Regions from separate parts of the Homo sapiens genome. Here all the other regions are linked to region 1. The links come from fine-mapping of genetic effects on gene expression. A gene starts in region 1. Each other region holds a variant in brackets. All regions are shown on one strand. Distances are between the middles of the regions.

The links. PIP is the estimated chance that this variant, and not a neighbour inherited with it, causes the effect. A credible set is the group of variants that fine-mapping cannot tell apart.
Region 2: its variant is the best candidate, but not a certain one, in a credible set for the expression of JPH1 in nasal epithelium (TOPMed, PIP 0.60).
Region 3: its variant is the best candidate, but not a certain one, in a credible set for the expression of JPH1 in aorta (GTEx, PIP 0.86).

What each region holds. Positions count from the first base shown.
Region 1 is chr8:74,318,917-74,323,159 of GRCh38, reverse strand. JPH1 (junctophilin 1) reads left to right here and starts at 1,620. Exons shown (of 6, transcript NM_020647.4): 1 at 1,620-2,251. The coding sequence starts at 1,873. RefSeq lists a silencer at 1,470-1,569 and an enhancer at 1,663-2,553.
Region 2 is chr8:74,290,942-74,295,184 of GRCh38, reverse strand. All of the region lies in intron 2 of JPH1 (junctophilin 1), which reads left to right. Among named protein-coding and RNA genes, the nearest start is that of JPH1, 28 kb to the left of the region's middle. The variant G/A (reference allele first, on the strand shown) is at 2,125.
Region 3 is chr8:74,281,998-74,286,240 of GRCh38, reverse strand. The region is part of intron 2 of JPH1 (junctophilin 1); the gene reads left to right. Among named protein-coding and RNA genes, the nearest start is that of JPH1, 37 kb to the left of the region's middle. RefSeq lists an enhancer at 4,022-4,243. The variant A/G (reference allele first, on the strand shown) is at 2,011.

The sequences.
Region 1 (4,243 bases):
GGCTTCTAATTCTCTTTGGTGATTTGGTTCTGCATAAACTGAGATTTTTCTTTCAGTCTTTCAGCCAGATAAGTAGGAAAGGTCGGCTCTCGTCCTGAGAGAGAGGCAATCAAGGTCAATTTCAGTTCCTTTTCTGTGCAGTTTAGTCTACTTTTTCCCAGGCTGTCTTCCTGACACCTGTCCTTATATCTATATCTGATTATCAAATACTTAGTGAGAGAACCTTTGGCAGCTTCTGATGCTCGCATAGTCACCCAAAGGCCTCTCAGCCTAAGAAATAGCAGGAATACACTCCAAATCAGTTTCCTTGAGAGGCCAAACTAAGACCCTAGGCTGTGAAAGTGGGAGAAGTTTCTCCCGTGGGTATTTTGAGGGTGAGGTGGAGAATAATGCTTTCTCTCACCAGAGGCAATGCTGATCCAACTTGCCTATTACCAAATCTCTAATTTTTGGTTTGGCACTGCAGCCACAATATACTCAGTTATTACCGAATATAGAAAGAGAAAGGCAAATCTTGTTAGTCCCATTCAGAAGATGGTGAAATGGAGGTTTAAAAGTTTAGAAGAGTTGCCTAAAGTGAATTCGACAAAGCAGTGTTGTAGCTAGAAAGTAGACCAGCTGACATCTGTCCCTGGTTTTGTAGGTCACAGTTTCTTTGCAAGTTTAGAGCAGTGCTTTACTTACCATATTCCTCCTTGCAAACCTCTATTTACTTTCTTAAACAGTGGATACCAGTGGAGAGGTGTGCATTCCAGACACTTATACAATGTACACAGACCGAGCCGTCTACCTGTTGGGCACACAGCTCCAGGCTCAAGAATCTCTAAGGCTGTTAAGAAGCACAAACGAGGCACGAGAGGGGGCAGGCTCTAATGTAAAAGGAATATCCTGTACCACTGCAAAGGCCGATTGAAAACATCCTCTTCATCACTATTAATAAAAAACTAACCAATATATTCTGTGCTTTTTCAAACTGTACTGCTCACCCTCAGTGTCTTCATTAAATAAATGCAAACACGTGTGCTTTGAAACGGGTAGGTGTAAAAGAACACTCTGCACAATTATATCTAGGCTGCCGCAGATTTACATCACATGCATACATATATCTAGGCGATATTAATTCACGATGACAGCTGAGCATGACAAATGCAACAGTACACAAGTTGGAATGCGAAAACAATGCAACTACAAACCCCATGCAGACAAACACGCATACAATGAGTTTTCCCTCAACACACACGTGGCCGCACTCACAGGAGCTTAACCACTTTGAAAAACCCCAAACACAAACACCGGGGGCTCCGGCGCCCGCGAGCGGCCCCCACACAGGCAGCCGCGCCTTCATCTCCAGGCAGGGATTCTCGTGCGTCCCCGGGTACACTCGCCCTCCCACCGGCATCCCACTGCGCGAACACATGCGCGCCAGCCGGTCCCCGCGCGCGCCCGCCTGCCGAGGAAGCGGCGGCTCCCGGGGCTGGGGGCAGGGCCCGGTGGGGCGGGAGCGCCGCGGGGCCGGGCCTCGGCGCCCGGGGAGGGGACGAGGGGCGGGCGCGGGGCGGTGCCCGGCTCACGTGGGCGGGCGGGAGCAGCTGAAGGTCCGCTCGGGAACCTGGGCTGTCCTCTCGCGCGCGGCGCTGGCCCAGGCGGCGGCGGCGAAGGAGGAGGAGGAGGAGGAGGAAGGCGGCGGTGGCGGCGGCAAAAGAGGAGGGAGGACGGGGGCGGCGTCGGACTGGAGCCGAGCGGCAGCGCGAGCTGCCCAGGGCGCTGTCGTGAGCTCGCCCGCCGGGCCCCCACCCCCGAGCTACACCCTGCCGTGCCCAGCACTGCCCGCGTCCGTGCCCCTGCGGGGAGCGCGCCGGGGCTGCCCCCCGAATGACGGGCGGAAGGTTCGACTTCGACGATGGCGGCACCTACTGCGGCGGCTGGGAGGAGGGCAAGGCGCACGGGCATGGCATCTGCACGGGGCCCAAGGGCCAGGGCGAGTACTCGGGCTCCTGGTCGCACGGCTTCGAGGTGGTCGGAGGCTACACCTGGCCCAGCGGCAACACCTACCAGGGCTACTGGGCGCAGGGCAAGCGGCACGGGCTGGGGGTGGAGACGAAGGGCAAGTGGATGTACCGGGGGGAGTGGTCACATGGTTTCAAGGGGCGCTACGGGGTCCGGCAGAGCCTGTGCACCCCCGCTCGCTACGAGGGTACCTGGAGTAACGGGCTGCAAGACGGGTACGGCGTGGAGACCTACGGGGACGGAGGTGAGCGGCGTAACGGGCGGCTCGGCTGCTCCGCGAGCTGGTGCGGTGGGCTCTGCCCCGGCTGCGGGGAAGCGGGGAGGACGCCGGGCGCACGTGTCCGGAAACCCGCCAAAACACCTGGGGGCGCCTCCCACCCCCGCGCCCGCGCCCGCCTTTCCCAGAGAGGGCGCTGGGACCGGACTGGGGCGCGAGGGCTGGATCTGACCCCGTTCTTGGAGCGGGCCGTGTATCCACACTCAGGGGAGCTAGGCGTGAATGTACCTGGCCGGCGCCAGCGCTGCGCTGCCACCGGGAGGGAGCGCCGCCCGGGAGGGTTGGGCTGGAGAGAGGACGCTGTCACTTGAGCCCGTCACATTACGTTCCTGATCCCTCCCTCTCCCGGCCGGGTTTGAAATCGCCACTCCCGTGGAGTTAGAGCGAACACCCTGAGCGGGTGAGGTTGGCGGTCCGTGCTGACCGCTCCCGGGATTGGTTTCACGTGGAGTCGTATTTCGCTTCTGGTCCTCCAGTAGCCTAAAGATAGAAGCCAGAACCCCGTAACTAGGATGTTGGGGAATTGTACCTTATTTGGGGGTGCATTTGGAAACGTCCTAGTTATGGGAGCAGAAAGGCCACCTGATGCAGGTGGAGTTCAGAGTGTGTGAGTTCCTAGTTTTCATTCCGTTTCTTAAAGTATTGGTCTTAAAAGAGTAGCAGTCTTTGCTGACCTGGAGATCTTGGACAAATTACTAGGAAGATATTTTAGAAATGGGTAATGAAGTCTACATTTTAAAGAATACAATTAGCAGGTGTGTTCCTATAGCTGCTAAGTTAGCAGCTACTACTCCTGAGAATGGCAATACTGAAACAATAATTTGCATTATGTGTGACCTAAGCCAGTATTCCTGGCTGTGAACAAAGATCACCTTATTTTAATATTTAACAATATTTGCCAAAGAGATTGTGTATATACCAGGACAGAAGTTCCTCTTTTATTAGGAAAAGTATACATTATTGAAACAGGTGTCAAAACCTGATGAATTTCCTTGTGTAATACGCTGAGAAAGATATTCATGAATAGCTTATGCTTTAGCAAAGTGCATTTCCTGATAAACATAATCATATTTAGTTGAAAAGGGTTGTAGGAGGCGACATCACTTTTTGGAATTAAGCAGCTCAGAGTTGGAGGATATTAAAGGGATGCAATTAAAAGTTTCTCCAGCCCACTGCAACCCCATTTATACCATTGCTTATATAAAAGCTTACACAATTTGTACACTTCACTTAGTCAGAACACTTGGGCCGTGTTTCAAATGCAAAATGGCAGAATGGTAGAACTTGCTAAAAAGGACATCTTTTCATCCTACAGTATAAATTAAGCATATGGTTCTCATGGATTAAAAGAAAAAAACGTTCTCTAATAGTTTTATGTGGGGCTGAGTCCCGAGTTTCACAGTAGTTAATTGGGACCCTTAAATGTTCTGAATGGGCATAAAGTACCTGGTTGACAGCGCTGTAAATATGTCAGTTTGTGACTGGATTTTGTTGGAGGCCCCAGCTCTACTATATAACTAAATTCCATGCTCAAAAGTAGAAGGCAAAATTTATTGTTTTAAATGTGTGCATTATTTTATAATCTTTTAAGAAGGCCAGGGATGGTTCTCTTCAGTTTTGGAAGGTTAAAAATCGTCTCCTTTTAAAGATACTATTCATTAAACACACTCTCTTGGTTTAGAGTATTCATTATACCTAGTAATCAAAATATATATAGCACAGTAGAGGCTGTCTGTGTACATGTCGTAGAAACCCAAATAAGTCTCCAGAATGATTTTATGAATAATCTGCCTTCAGTTTTAAAATAAACTTAAAAAAAAACTTAAAACTTGGCATCATCCTGGGTGGTACTGTGGTTTTCTTCTTCTACCAAAAAAAAAAATCTAATATGCTACAGTTAGGAAGAAAAACCTTAAAAATCACTACTGAATGTCTACTCTATGCTAATAGATTTTCTAC
Region 2 (4,243 bases), 28 kb after region 1:
GCCTGAAGGAAACCAGTAGGAGTTTCTAGAAATAGAAAGGGGAGAAAAGCTTTCCAAGCAGAGGGACCTGCAAGGGCAAAAGCATGGAGGATTAGGAGCTCTCATTTGTTTCTTCCCTGCTAAAGTGCTATTGTCATTCAAACTTATGTAGGTCCAGGGCACAGAGAAGCAGCATGTGTGGTTAGTGGTAAAGCACACACTCTGTGCCACCAGACAGTCGTTTAGACCCTGGCCCTGCCAATGCTGTGAGTTGGGCAGATGGCCTAACTGTTCCACGTCTCAGGCTCCCTCATCAGCAAAATGGGAAAAGAACAGCAATAGCTACTCAGAGGACCATTGTGAAAATTTAAAGAGTCAATAAATTTAAAGTAGAAAGTGGACACTAAATATTTCATGTTAGAGTAAATGTTGTGATCATTTGAACCAGCATTTTCCAAATGCCTGCTCTGTGTAAAGCAAGTACACATTTTGGTGCCTTGGGAGAAACCAAAATGAAAAAGATACGGACTCTATCCTTCAGGAAATTTATAACCAAGAGACAGATGAATATGTAAACAACTAGCAATGCAGCTTGAAGTTAAATAATAGCTACGTGGAGGTTCAGACAATGTGTGGGAGCATCACCAAAAAAGAAATTTGTTCTGAGGAAGAGGAAGAATTCTTGTGAGAAGAGAGATTGTTGTAGAATTTGTGCCTAGTGCTCATTTTGACTTGCTTTGTCTTGGTAGTACGTGAATCAGGACAGGGACATCCGGGCCTGCTTTTGGCCCTGTTTCCTCACCGTGGCCGACTTTGTCTTGGCTTGTCTCTGGTCTACCTGGACAGTGTTCAAATGCTTCACTTAGAAATGAAGCTCGAGAGGTGAATAAGGTAGGTTTGATTTATCAGTTTTATTACTCAGCTGCTTGAGAGAAGTGCAGAAAGAGCAGGAGCTGAGGGCAGGTGGCACGTGGGGAACTTTATCTTCAATGAGAAGAAATCAGGCTACAGAGAAGTCCCCAGGCCCTAGCTGTAGAGCACATTCACATAATTGCCCTTGTGGCCATTCATGCTCCTGCCTCCCACATTCAGAGGAGTTCCCTCAGGTGTGCAGGATTTTCCCCCACCACCAGCCCCCAAGGACAGACCAGAGTGACGCCTGCATTGTGTTTTGGAAGTCGGGGCTGAGATGAAGGCAGCCCTTTCCTGCAGTGAAGGGGGACCCTGGTCTGCGCTCTACAAAAGAGACACCCCATGCCCAACCTAGGGGCTGCTGGCTCTTGAGTGGGAGGTTGGTGTCAATTGGCCCCCGGTGTCTTTGTCTTCCAAAAGTTGGGTCCAGACTATCCTATTTTTGCCAGAAATATCTCACAGGCAGTGGTCCAAGCCTGGCATAGTCTCATAGTTTCAGCTCTGATAAAGTGCCCTCCCCTCTTTATGGTCAGTCTGGTCCTGGAAGGAGAAGTGGTAAGTCAACTCTAATTCAGTTATGGTTGCCAGAAATCAAAGAAGTGAATGTGAGCTGCATCACCAAGTATTACAGAAGGCAGAAAAGGCAAAGCATGCCTATAAAATCTTTAACATGACAGCCTGGTTTTTACTCAGAGAAATTTAGGGAATTATTTTGAAATATTTCTGCATGATGGGGTAGTGGTTCGTTCAGCTGTGCAACTTGAGATCTTGGTTCTGTCACTTTAAGTGGCCTTGAGCAACCGGTTTCACCTCTCCAAGCCTTAGTTTCCCCATCTGTAAAATGGGCATGATAGTTAGTGGCACCTCCTCACAGGGTTAGAATGAGTGCTTAATGAATTGGTGTGTGTTAAGTGTTTGGAACGGTGCCCAACGCTAGTAAACTCTGTGCAGGTGGAGCTCTTACTCTTATGGGGTCACATCAAGAGATTTTTGGTGAATTTGTTTTCCTGCTGCCACACTGGGCCTATCCAAGGATATAATAGTGTCTTTGAGGCATTATCCAAGGCTTTTGTGAAATACAGGTCATAATATATATTTTTTCAGTTACTAGATTAGTAGTAGAAGTTCATTGGCTCTCAGGTCTCTGAGAAAGATAGCTGTACAGGTTCCTACCCAAATTCTGGAAAAGAGTAAATTATTTTCTCCTAATACTTTGCATACAAATATGAGGAA[G/A]AATCCCAGCCTGTGGTTTGTATGACCACACCTCTGTTTGACGTTCCCAAAGGCTGCTCTAGGGTGTGTGCAAACTGTGGCTATAAAGACAGATTTCTTTGATGGAGGCTTCCTTTTTAAAACTCAGACCAGCCTGATTCACCCCTGCCTGCCATCTGCTATGAAGTTTAAACAGCTTTGAGCTGAACACCTGTGTCTTTGTCTTGCTTTTTGCCTTGCTAAACAGGACTTGATTGGATTTCCCTTTTCAACACAATTGCCCACCTACACATCTACATTTCTGTGTTGCTACCTCATATGGCTTTGATCAACCTGTTCAGAAGAAATAGCCAGAATTTAAAGTATGAGAAAATAACATTAAAGTTAGGTAGGAAATTCTCCTTACACTACTTTTCTGTTTGTTTGTTTTTTAACAGCAGTGTGAAACGTCTGTGTTAAGATTATTAAAATATCTTCATTTTACCCGTTTGTAAGTGTGTCTGTTTAGGCTTTAAGGAAATAACTGAAGCCATTCTTTTCCCCCATATGCAGCTGGGTAACTTGTAATCTGCAAAATGGCATCAGAAGAATTAGGTAAAACACAGGAAACACAGGGAGCTAGAAGTCAGTGACCACAGACCCCTCCGCAGTGTGTATTAGTGGCAGTTCATGGAAGACCTAGACCAAGCCCCTTGCTTATTGGCCGTTTGATGTCGCTTCCTTGAGTAGACACTGCTGGGTATTCAGGGGGTTCCAAGTGAGCATGGAATAATGCCAGCGCTCAAGTGGCATATTAGTTAGTAGTGGAACATTCCACATCACTGTGATACAAGGTGGAGAGTAAGTGCCATGTGGGAATCAGTTGTGTTTTTCAGAACGTTTTTTTCTGTTTAATTTTTTATTATTATTATACTTTTAAGTTCTAGGGTACATGTGCACAACGTGCAGGTTTGTTACATATGTATACATGTGCCATGTTGGTGTGCTGCACCCATTAACTCGTCATTTACATTAAGTATATCTCCTAATGCTATCCCTGCCCCCTCCCCCACCCCACGACAGGCCCTGGGGTGTGATGTTCCCCACTCTGTGTACAAGTGTTCTCATTGTTCAATTCCCACCTATGAATGAGAACATGTGGTGTTTGGTTTTCTGTCCTTGCGATAGTTTGCTGAGAATGATGGTTTCCAGCTTCATCCATGTCCCTACAAAGGACATGAACTCATCCTTTCTTATGGCTGCATAGTATTCCATGGTGTATATGTGCCACATTTTCTTAATCCAGTCTATCATTGATGGACATTTGGGTTGGTTCCAAGTCTTTGCTATTGTAAATAGTGCCACAGTGACATTTGCGTTGGTTCCAAGTCTTTGCTATTGTCAATAGTACCACAGTAAACATACTTGTGCATGTGTCTTTATAACAGCATGATTTATAATCCTTTGGGTATATACCCAGTAATGGGATGGCTGGGTCAAATGGTATTTCTAGTTCTAGATCCTTGAGGAATCGCCACACCGACTTCCACAATGGTTGAACTAGTTTACAGTCCCACCAACAGTGTAAAAGTGTTCCTATGTCTCCACATCCTCTCCAGCACCTGTTGTTTCCTGACTTTTTAATGATCGCCATTCTAACTGGTGTGAGATGGTATCTCATTGTGGTTTTCATTTGCATTTCTCTGATGGCCAGTGATGATGAGCATTTTTTCATGTGTCTGTTGGCTGCATAAATGTCTTCTTTTGAGAAGTGTCTGTTCATATCCCCACTTTTTGATAAGGTTGTTTGATTTTTTCTTGTAAATTTGTTTAAGTTCTTTGTAGATTCTGGATATTAGCCCTTTGTCAAATGGGTAGATTGTAAAAATTTTCTCCCATTCTGTAGGTTGCCTAGTCACTCTGATGGTAGTTTCTTTTGCTGTGCAGAAGTTCTTTAGCTTAATTAGATCCCATTTGTCAATTTTGGCTTTTGTTGCCATTGCTTTTGGTGTTTTAGTCATGAAGTCCTTGCCCATGCCTATGTCCTGAATGGTATTGCCTAGGTTTTCTTCTAGGGTTTTTATGGTTTTAGGTCTAACATGTAAGTCTTTAATCCATCTTGAATTAATTTTTGTATAAGGTGTAAGGACGGGATCCAGTT
Region 3 (4,243 bases), 37 kb after region 1:
CAGTGTTCTAAAGGAAGGGACAGTTGCATCGGAAAGACTTGGAAATGTGTAAGGTGACAGTCAAGAGAAATGGGAGTTTATGGTGACCGAGTAGGATATGGATCAAGGTAACCACCAGCAATGGGTGTGAAGCATTGCATATGAAAGGCTAGTTAACAGGATGTATTTTAAATAGACCAGGTTCTTGCCCTGTATTTACAAGTGATGATTTTTAAAACATTTAACTTTCCGTATTTTTTGCATAAATGATACATGTTCATGGTTCAAAATTTTAAAGTACAAAATGGTATAGACTGAGTGATAAATCTCCTCCTCACTCCAGCTGACCAAATCCTTTCCCTGAAGGCAGTGAAGTATCTTCATAAAACTTTTTCTGTTATTTACATATATAGAAATATGTTTTATCCTCTTTGATGCAGATGGTTACATGCTCCAAGTCCATAATTGCTATCCAAAACTTTTTGGGTCCAGATATGTTTTAGAATTCAGAACTGGATTTTAGAAAAGCAACATGTTGCATATAATGCAGATTACATAATATCCCCAGGGGGTCTGAGCACACCAAGTAATCAGACACATTAATTCTCCAGGGAAACTGAATAATCACACTAGGTGGGATAAAGAAGAATCATAAATAGCCTCATGTCAGTTGCATTCAGGTGTTACTGTCAAGTTTTGACACTAAATTTATAAAAAGGAAATATTGATTTTTAAAGCTTTCAAGATCTTGGAGTTGCAGATAAAGGATTCTAGCTCAGAAAACACTGCATCCTAGGCTTTTTTTTAATTTAATAATATACTATATATTGGATTTCATTCCATATCATTACATAAAGAGCTTCCTCATTCTAGAAGTAGTACCGGCTCACATGCTAGACTTCTAGAAAATATTTTAAATACATATAGTATTTATATGTAGTATTTATATGGAAAAATTCATAAAGTAGATATAGTATTTATATGGAAAAATTCATGTATATGTGTGTGTATGTGTGTATGTGCAGTTAATAGCAGAATCAGGTCTAGATCAAGTCACTAACTTTGAGTGTAAGGCTCTTTACAACACCATAATGCCTGTTGGTTTAAAAAAAAATCTCCAGTTAGAAATAGTAACCATAGGCTAGGCGCAGTGGCTCACGCCTGTAATCCCAACACTTTGGGAGGCTGAGGTGGGTGGATTACAAGGTCAGGAGTTCGAGACCAGCCTGACCAGCATGGTGAAACCCCATCTCTACTAAAAATACAAAAATCAGCCAGGTGTGGTGGCACCTGCCTGTAATCCCAGCTACTCAGGAGGCTGAGGCAGGAGAATCACTTGAACCCGTGAGGCAGAGGTTGCAGTGAGCCGAGATTGCGCCACTGCATTCCAGCCTGGGTGACAGAGTGAGACTTTGTCTGAAAAAAAAAAAAAGAAAGAAAGAAGAAATAGTAACCATACCAGCACATACCGGTCTATGAAAAAAAAAAAAAATGCAGCTTAGCCAAGCTAGTAGAGTAGTAATATACAATATTATAATTTGTTTAGTGTTGGGGGAAAAAAGCCTTAAGAACTAGAACTCAATTTGTATTATTCCTTATGAGAATTCTTTTGCCAGGTAAACATATTCAGATTTATTTATAATATCATTATCTTTATTCTTTGTAGGAAAGTTGCTAGTCGGAAAGGCTGTTTCAATAATGGAGACGCTTTTTTTAATTGGTGTGTCAGCAGATGACTGAAAGGAGAAAGCCTTGTAATAGCATGCACAGTTGTCACCGTGCACCGGTGTTTCAGCAGAGAAGTCTGACTAAATAAGGCAATGCCCAAGTGAGCCTTATCAGCGTTTGACCGGAATACAGGCTAGCTAGCTGACATACACCACCCAGCCACTCTCTCCACAATTCCTTAACTTCTCAGCAGATGTGCATTCATCACATCAAAAGTTACTACCTACAGTGCTGGAAGATGTTGCACCTGCATTTTATTTTATAAAAATTTGAATAAGAATGACACATAAGTCTCAAGAGAGG[A/G]TAAAGGAGAGAGTTCAGTTTACTGTTCCAAAAATGTGTTATGCATGTAAGCATACTTATTTTTAGTGATGTGTCAATAGAGAGTTTGTTTAGGAGTTCATTCACCAGCCCTGGCTCCTGAGGGCTTTTTCCCCAACCACCACAGCCCTCCCCAGCTGGCCTGAGGTTAAGAGACAGGAGGACTCCTGGGTCCAAGGGAAGGAAATTTGCAATCACTGCCACCCCTTGAATCTCCTGGGTGGAGGGGAGGAATGTAAGGAAAAGGAGAAAGTCTCAGACTTTAAATCCCATCCAAGCGCTACTTGCCACTGTTCTTTTCATTTCCTCCATCTCTTTGCTCTGTGGTGTTTATATTCTGCCAGTCTATATATTTATAAAAAGAAAAAGGAGCATTTTTTATGGGACTAAATCCAAGAGTTCAATTCTAATGCCAACAAGTACCACTTTCAGTGTATGTTAGTATTCAAGCTGCAATCTGGGCTTCTAATCAGGGCTTGGGGAGGGGGAGCTGTGTGTGCACTCAGCACGCTGTTAAAAGAAGTTTCTGAAACTGATGATTGTATATTATGCCACTATAAGATAAAAATAGAACTAAAAGATTAAAATGAGTGTGTGGAGCCAAAGCTCTGAGTTAGATTCATAACTTGTATTCATCCTCTGCCTACCTGTATTTCTGCCCATCTTTCCTCCTTCTCACCTTCCTTTCCCTTTTCTTAACCTTTCAGTGTAGAAGGTTGATGTCATCACAGCCCTCAGTTTCTGGCTTTCTGTATGCAACCATCAGTGCAAGCCCCTCTCTTGTGCTCCCTTTTTCCCATTCCCCTCTATAAGCACTCAGTAATATGTTTATTATATGTCATTGATTATGTAGACATTGAAAAATGTAGTGTTGTTTTCTATATTTTTAATTTATATAAATGACACTATGCCACACAGGCCATTTTCTTTTATTTATAATTTAAAAATATATATTTAAGATATTAATAACATTTTATATTTTACATGCATTTTAAGTTGTATTTATATGTACTTTCTGCCACTCAGCACAGTTTTAAGATTTATCCATGCAGCCATATGTACCCCTGGTGCATTCTGACTGCTGCATGGTAAAGTCTACATACACGTTTTACTCGCTGCTCCCCTAATAACCCCTAACACCCTACTGTCACAAGCATTGCTACAATAAACACTGTTTAACTGTGTTTTAAAAGTCAAGATGCCCTTCATTAAAATACCTCTAGTAAAATATTATACCCATTTAAATTCATTTATTATGTTTAAATGACACATATAATTGTACATATTTATAGAGAACAGTGTGATATTTTGATACATGTATACAATGTGTAATGATCAAATCAGGGCAATTAGGAAATCCATCACTTCAAACGTTTATCATTTCTTTATGTTGGAAACGTTCCCGGTCCCCTCTTGTAGCTATTCGAAAATGCATAATGAATTGTTAACTATAGTCACCCTGTAGTGCTATAGAACACTAGAATGTATTTCTCCTACCTAGCTGTAATTTTGCCTCAGTTAACCTCCTCTGGCTATCCTCATCTCCCTCCTAACTTTCCTCACCTCTGTTAACCACTATTTTACTCTCTACTTCTATGAGATTAACTTTTTCAGCTTCCGCAAAAGAATGAAACCATGTGGTATTTACCTTTCTGTGCTTGGCTTATTTTCAAATATATACATTCTAAAACTCTTAATTTAAAATGTTTTCCTGCAGTTGAAAAGACTGTTGGTACCCACCTCAGCATGCATATTCGTGACATCTCTATCCTAATGGCACAGAAAAAAACTTAAAGCTTTCCAATAGGGTATGGAATACATTCTGTGGTTGGGCAGATCGCTCCAAGTGTAATATTTTAGAATAAAATATTCACACATCTTTTGAATAACAGCTTTGGGTCTTTGATAGGGAAAACTTGGTGGAAGGTCTAGACTAGTAGGCATGCAAGGGGGACTAATCTTTTTCACACTCAGTGAATATCTCAGTGATTTAAGGTAGTGGAGTGTGGGAAGAACACATGCTTTGGGGTCAGGCAAAGTCTTGACTCCAACTTGGGCAAGTAAATTAACTTCCCTGATCCTTGGTGTCTTCATCAATAACTTTAGGATACTGATAGGGAAATCAAAAGGATTAGGTAGGTTCATGTATGAGCTGGATCTTATGTAATGCCTGATGCATAGTGATCCTTCCAACACAGGGAACTATGGAACATTT